Linked DNA regions of Homo sapiens. The protein of the gene in region 2 binds, or shares a complex with, the protein of the main gene of each other region. Each region holds a gene or a part of one and is shown on either strand. Other genes may lie near its edges.

The links. The genes of interacting proteins can lie anywhere in the genome.
Region 1: PIGF (region 2) and PIGG share a complex: the UniProt entries of both Homo sapiens proteins name them as parts of the ethanolamine phosphate transferase 2 complex.

The regions. Positions count from the first base shown.
Region 1 is NC_000004.12:497,112-500,862, forward strand, and holds the start of PIGG (GPI ethanolamine phosphate transferase 2, catalytic subunit), read left to right. Parts: upstream 1-2,098; 5' UTR 2,099-2,224; coding exon 2,225-2,378; exon of another isoform or gene 2,379-2,936; intron 2,937-3,284; coding exon 3,285-3,490; intron 3,491-3,751.
Region 2 is NC_000002.12:46,582,442-46,586,192, reverse strand, and holds part of PIGF (GPI ethanolamine phosphate transferase, stabilizing subunit), read left to right. Parts: intron 1-1,504; exon of another isoform or gene 1,505-3,751.

The DNA of each region.
Region 1 (3,751 bases), on a different chromosome or scaffold from region 2:
AATCAATTTTCTTACCTAGTGATGGGGCTCAAGCTGAAGACGGCTATCTGTCGATGCAGAAGCAGGCAGGCTTGCCTTCCTTGATGAAGCGAGTGGGAACTCCCAAAAAAGGAGTTTTTTAACAGCAAATAAACCTCAGACCCCCCACCGAAAAACGTTGGAAGATCAGGGATCCCTGGAGGAACAAGGTCCCAGATTTCAGCAATCATCCTACCAGTTTGGGCAATAAGGTGCCAAGCCAATACCGAGGATCAATAGGCGAACTGCTGCAGGCCGGGTTACCTTCACTGAGGATCTCTCAGTGCTTATCAATGTCAATCGAGAAAAATGACAAGTCTTAATCATTTCAGGAGGCTTATTTCCCAAAGTTAAGGACGCCCATGACACAGCCTCCGGAGATCCTGACGACGTGGGTCCAAGGTGGTCGGGGCACAGCTTGGTTGTATTCATTTTAGGGAGTCACGAGATATCAATCATATGTATAATAACAGGCCGGACAGGGCGCGGTGTCTCACGCCTGTAATCCCAGCTCTTTGGGAGACAGAGGCGGGCGGATCACGAGGTCAGGAGATTGAGACCATCCTGGCTAACATGGTGAAACCCGTCACTACTAAAAAATACAAAAAAAAAAAAAAAATTTGACGGGCGTGGCGGCGGGCGCCTGTAGTCCCAGCTACACGGGAGGCTGCGGTAGGAAAATGGCGTGAACCCGGGAGGCGGAGCTTGCAGTGAGCGGAGATGGTGCCACTGCACTCCAGGCTGGGCGACAGAGCGAGACTCCGTCTCAAAAACAAACCAACAAAAAAAAAACAGGCCGGGCGCGGTGGCTCATGCCTGTAAATCCCAGCACTCTGGGAGGCCGAGGCGGGCGGATCACGAGGTCAGGAGTTCAAGAACAGCCTGACCAACATGGTGAAACCCCGTCTCAACTAAAAATACAAAAATTAGCCGTGCGTGGTGGCACGCACCTGTAATCCCAGCTACTCAGGAGGCTGAGGCAGGAGAATTGCTTGAACCCGGGAGGCAGAGGTTGCAGTGATCTGAGATCACGCCACTGCATTCCAGCCTGGGCGACAGAGTGAGATTTCATCTGAAAAGAAAAAGAAAAAAAAAAAAAAAAAAAAAAAAAGAAGGACATTGGTTCTGTCCAGAAAGGCGGGGGCAACTTGGAACAGGGAGGGGGCTTCCAGGTCACAGGTAGGTGACAGACAAATGGTTGCAGTTTCTGGGTTTCTGATAAGCCTCTCCAAAGGAGGCTATCAATATGCATTTATCTCAGTGAGCAGAGGAATGACTTTGAATAGAATGGGAGGCAGGTTTGTCCTGAGCAGTTCCGAGCTTGTCTTTTCCCTTAGTTTAGTAATTTTGGGGCCCCAAGATTTTCCTTTCAGAAAAAAGAAAATGTGGTATATATACACAATGGAGTACTATTCAGCTCTAATAAAAGAATGAAACCCTATCATTTGCCACAACACGGATAAACCTGAGGATATCATGTAAGCAAAATAAGACACAGAAAGACAAATACCTCATGATCTCACTCATGTGGCATCTTTAAAACGAAGTTAATCATTAAGATATTTACCAGTTGTCTGAGGTATTGGGTTGAATTTTCTTTTTTTTTTTTTTTTTGAGACGCAGTCTCGCTCTGTTGCCAGGCAGAAGTGCAGTGGCGCGATCTCGGCTCACTGCAACCTCCGCCTCCCAGGTTCAAGCGATTCTCCTGCCTCGGCCTCCCGAGTAGCTGGGACGACAGGCACCCGCCATCACGCCCCGCTAATTTTTTGTATTTTTAGTTGAGACGGGGTTTCACCATGTTGGCCAGGATAGTCTCGATCTCCTGACCTCGTGATCCGCCCGCCTCGGCCTCCCAAAGTACTGGGATTAAAGGCGTGAGCCACTGCACCCTGCCTTCCAAATTAAAAACTTTTTAAAACCTCGTACCTCGCCGTGGGCGGCGACCGTCGCGGACTCGCCGGGAAGACGGCCCCACGGAGCCGGGAACACCGCCCGCTGTTCGTATGTCCGAGGTGACGCCCCGCTGTGGCGGGCTGGCGGAAGTGACGCGCTGCTGTGGCGCGCCGGCGGACGTGACGCCACTGTCGCTGCGACGATAAGGCCTGGCGTTATTGCTTAGAGGCGGCTACCTGGAGCCGGAAGCGCGGCTGCAGCAGGGCGAGGCTCCAGGTGGGGTCGGTTCCGCATCCAGCCTAGCGTGTCCACGATGCGGCTGGGCTCCGGGACTTTCGCTACCTGTTGCGTAGCGATCGAGGTGCTAGGGATCGCGGTCTTCCTTCGGGGATTCTTCCCGGCTCCCGTTCGTTCCTCTGCCAGAGCGGAACACGGAGCGGAGCCCCCAGCGCCCGAACCCTCGGCTGGTACGGACCCCTCCCCGGCGTCTCCGCTCCCCTGACCCCACATCCCCTAGAAGACCTTTTTTCTGAGCCTCGCTGCTCGGATTTCTTCTCGGCGCTCCCCGGTGGTCTCTTCCATTATGGTCCCCACCTCAGAAATTTTTTTTAACCGCTCCAGCGTCTCTTTTCTGTATTCTTACAACTTTGTGGCAACCACCTCTACTGGCCCCACTTCGACCTTCCTTCCTGATCACCACAAAGTAAGCTGTGTCCATACCTGGGATCCAGCCTCTCCACTTCTACTCGTCCAGAGCTCCCGCCCCTTTCCTGAGCAGCCTTTGGGTCACTCCCCGTTATAGGCGCCCTTTTTGCCCCCTAGCACACAACAGATAAGACCCCTGCCGATCCCCTCGCGTTTTGGTCTCTTATATTCCTCCAAGATGTTTTCCCTGCCTAGGGGCTAAGGCCTCTCTGCGTTAGGCCTCTTCCTAGGCTTCACCTACCCAGCCATATACAGCAAGTAAAGGCGCCCTGGTTCTGGACCACTTGCACACATCGCCAGCCGCTGACCATGTAAACGCAGTATGTAAACGCCCAGCCATCCCGTAGCTGCAGCTCTGCGTTTTAGGTCAAGCTCCCTAAATGTCCCATTCCAGGACCCTTACGTAGGGATTCTCCTACCCCAGTACTCTTCACCATACTGAGGATAATTCACTGCTTGCTACTGTGGGTCCCTAAGATTACTCCTGTTAACCCCCGTCCTTTCCCCCCAGCACTACCTACCAAGTACAAGTCGCCTCCTTTTGGGTTGGGTTATGTAGATATCGCAGGGTATGTGCTGGAGAAGTAGGTAGAAGCTAGATTGTGAAGGTGCTTGATGCTAAGGAAAGTTTAGAGTTCAATTTCCTTTTTTTTCTTTCAAACACTTAGGAGCCAGTTCTAACTGGACCACGCTGCCACCACCTCTCTTCAGTAAAGTTGTTATTGTTCTGATAGATGCCTTGAGAGATGATTTTGTGTTTGGGTCAAAGGGTGTGAAATTTATGCCCTACACAACTTACCTTGTGGAAAAAGGAGCATCTCACAGTTTTGTGGCTGAAGCAAAGCCACCTACAGTTACTATGCCTCGAATCAAGGTAAGTTTGCCTTAATGTTTTATGAATCATGGTTTGGCTGTTTTGAAGATTTAGAGGGGGTCTCTGTAGTCTTTCGCTTGGAGTTGCAATTTTAAGAAAGTGGAAATTTTGTGCTGTCAGTTGGCTGGGGCAATAGAATGTTGAAGGAGCCTCACACGGGATGGAACTGAGACCCATCATTTGTGCCCCATGTCAAGTAGCCAAAGCTCATGCTTCATGGCAAATATAAAAGATTTAGAGCAAGATCATCCAGGCTAACCT
Region 2 (3,751 bases):
TTCTGAGGTAAGGATACAGATGGTTAACGTAATGCCAGTATGTTGTACAGCTCCTGAATTTGCTCTTGTAACAGACATTTCACATGAAGAACAGCATGTATTAAAGATGATTGCTTTATGGCTGGGCGCGGTGGCTCACGCCTGTAATCCCAGCACTTTGGGAGGCTGAGGCAGACGGATCACGAGGTCAGGAGATCGAGACCATCCTGGCTAACACATTGAAACCCTGTCTCTACTAAAAATACAAAAAAATTAGCTGGACGTGGTGGCAGGCACCTGTAGTCCCAGCTACTCGGGAGGCTGAGGCAGGAGAATAGCGTGAACCTGGGAGGCGGAGCTTGCAGTGAGCCGAGATTGTGCCACTGCACTCCAGCCTGGGCGACAGAGCGAGAGTCCGTCTCAAAAAAAAAAAAGATGATTGCTTTGCAAGGGTAAAGAATAGTTCCTACCACTTCCTACCACACAGTATATTACTCATGAACTATTCGTTCTAAACTGCCGGTTCTACTTATTACATAGTAGTGTCAGTGACCAAAGAAATACTGTTTGTGTAAGTTTAATTTTTTCAAGTTAAAACATGTAATATACAGAATACTGGTACGTGGTACTTTATAGCTTTCATGACAAATTTTAAGAGATTACTTCAGCCCTGCATTTTAAGTATAGTAGGTACTTCTGTCCCTGTTCTGTAGGGGAAACTGAGGCTCAGATGTTAAAATGAGCTGGCTAAGGTCACTTAACATCTGATGTACCACTTATTTTTTAATTAGATTTTTCTTCTTCCTGGTAATTTTAATAATTTTACCCACTTGAGTTGTAATATATTTGATTATACACCATAGGTTGTTTCTTCTATTTACTGGCTAAAAAAATGTAAATTTATAAAAAACTCTCACTATCTTGCCCAGGCTGGCCTCCAGTGCTTGGGCCCTTGTCATTTTGGTGGCAAACACTTGTGAATGACTTCCTTTACATGAATGTCTTTGTTCTAAGTTTCCTATTTTCTTTAAACAAAATAATTATATAAAGCCATCTCAGATTACCATAATTTGGAGAAATCTTTATAGCAGTGCAGCTGAATTATGTATTTAATAGATATCACTTTTTTAAAAAATCCTATTTGTGGCATGAAGAACGTTGAATAGAAACATGTCTGTATGTGAGATAAGGAAATAGTTTTAAAGGAAAACCTTAGGATCTAATTATGAAAATACCTGATTAAGCTAGGATTTACAAATGAATTCTGTTGCCATAGTGTAGTTTAAAAATTTTTAGAATAATTATAAGAAAATCAGTAGGAAACTTGCTTGAGGAATAGTTCTTAGTGGGCAGCCTCCCTCCTTTTGCTGTTCCCTATTTTGATAATCTATTTTGATCTTCAAAAATCATGAAAACGGCCCTTAAAGAAATTCTCTTTTAAAAAAATGACAGGGTTACGATTAAGAAATGCTTATTTCAGGAAAGCCAAGGAGGTACTCTTGTAAGTACAAAGCCTGACCCATCATTAACAGTCTTCAAAGCCAGTCCACATTTTAATTTGCTGATGGCATGCACTTCTTGATTTACATAACATGAATAACCAAGTGTTCCAAGCCGTAACCCTTCATTAGACAAAATTTTTTAACATTTCATTTTTGGCATTCTGTTGGAGGTGAGGTGTGGCAGCTGTTTAAAAGAATGTGCGTGGTGGTATGTATGTGTTTGAGAACAAAGAGCCATACTGAAATTACAAAATGATTAAAATACAATTTAGTAACCCAAATTGGAATCTAGCTGGGATTCATGAGGGATTACTATTCTCCCTATACTTTAACAGTGAGCTTTTTTTAACAGAGTATAGGGACTCATACTTTGCCAATGATTAGTAGACTCTCAGCATAAATAGAGGAAAGAGTATTATCCTAAATGTTTACATAGGGTAATAAATAAAAACTACTAAGGTAAAAAGTTCAGTGCTTTACGTAGATAGTAAACTATGCATAGTATTTTATTTGTAACCCCATGTGTTAAGAAGGGACACTGTTAAAGTAACAATCATTTAAAAGTAACAACCAACAAACTGGTATTTAATTTGGTATTTTAAATAGTTAAAAATCAAATGGAAACAGTGTCTAAAGTCACTAAGATAATTCATAACAAAACCCATTAATCCAAGCTCCACTTATTGTAAATAGAATTCACCATGAGCTAACCTAAAATGTACCTGTGGAGATAAAACAAGAGTGTAAGTTAGCAAAGTATTAAATAAAATTTCAGGGAGCCCCTAAATTTATTTTTAAGAACTTTAGAACTAATTCTCTATATGCAAACACTGATTAACTCAAATATCTTGTAAGTTCATTCATACATGGCCTTATTTGAGGCAGTGTATTTGTATTCACTAGCAAAATTCATGTCAGTAAAATATTTTTGAAGCAGTTTATTTCCCAGATATTTCACTAGTTTGAAATAGTCATTTCAGTGATTAGTCTGAATTTCTATTGAAGCCTAAGCTTTGAATGAAGACATGCTTCTGAAAATAAGGCAGTTTTTCTCTAGTCTGCTTATCAATAGAAAACAAATCTTTGGTTTTTAGTTAAAGTGACAGGAAGGATTTTTGCAAAAAGAAAAACTAAAGAACCAAAGCAATTAAAAAGCTCTTGATAAGCAATGGGGAACTCCAAACCCATCAAGGTCAGTAGAGTACCTAAGGCACCTCAGCTTCAGATGTGACAGTCATCTTTGCTTAGAGTTCTGATAATCTATATACATGATTTTTACCATCTTGAGAATGTGAAGCTGAAAAGGTAACATCCAACAATGATTACTGTGAATAAGAAAATTACTGTGATAAATGGGAGAGACGTTGGAGATCTCTGTTCTACCTCCCATATTTATAATGAGGAAACCAAATCCCAGTCAAGAAACAGGTGACACCAGTTTGTGTAGACAAATTCCTAATCTGTTTCTGTTAGGGCAGGGCAAATTCTAGACTTCTAACTTTGAATTAGTAAACCAAGTGTGAAGGGTTTCAGAGATATGAATTGGAGCCCCCTCCCCCCACCAAAAAAAATCCTCATAAATCCCCAAAGGCAAGTTGGAAATGTGTAATAGTTTACTGTTGTAATTCGTTTATACCATGTGTTGGACAACTCAGCTAATATGTTAATTGATTTATACAATTCCTTTCAATTTTATCTAAAAATAAGCAGACCAAAATTAAATAAGAAAGTTACATAAGATTCCATTTGAGCATACATAAGGCCATGATACTTTAATGTGAACCACCATTTCTTGGAAGAAAGAAGACATCCAAATGTCCGATTCAGAGAGAAAGTTCCTGGCCAGTCATCCAGTAGACTCTCTCCACTCTTCAATGGGAAGGTGATGCTTATATTTTTAAAAATCTCTACAAAGCTCACATACAACAAGACAGTACATCCTAGATTTGTGACTGATATGAGCATTTAAGGCTGTCATTTTCAAGTATAAAAGTTTAGTGTTCCATTACCCAATCTGTGCAGTAGACATAGCTATAAGCTCAAGTCATGTGAATTAACAGAAGCCCACCAAAGACATTTAAAAAATTATAATTTGGGCAACAGCAAGTTTAAATGTAGGAAAGGCTAGAAAAAATGTGATGAGATTGTTTCTCTAAAATGCATTAGGTTGTTCACAATGAAGCTTTGTCTAACACCATTATCTGATGCATCCATTATCTGATGCATGGCATATGCAATAAGGCAGATCCACAGCAGACCAAACAAGGAAG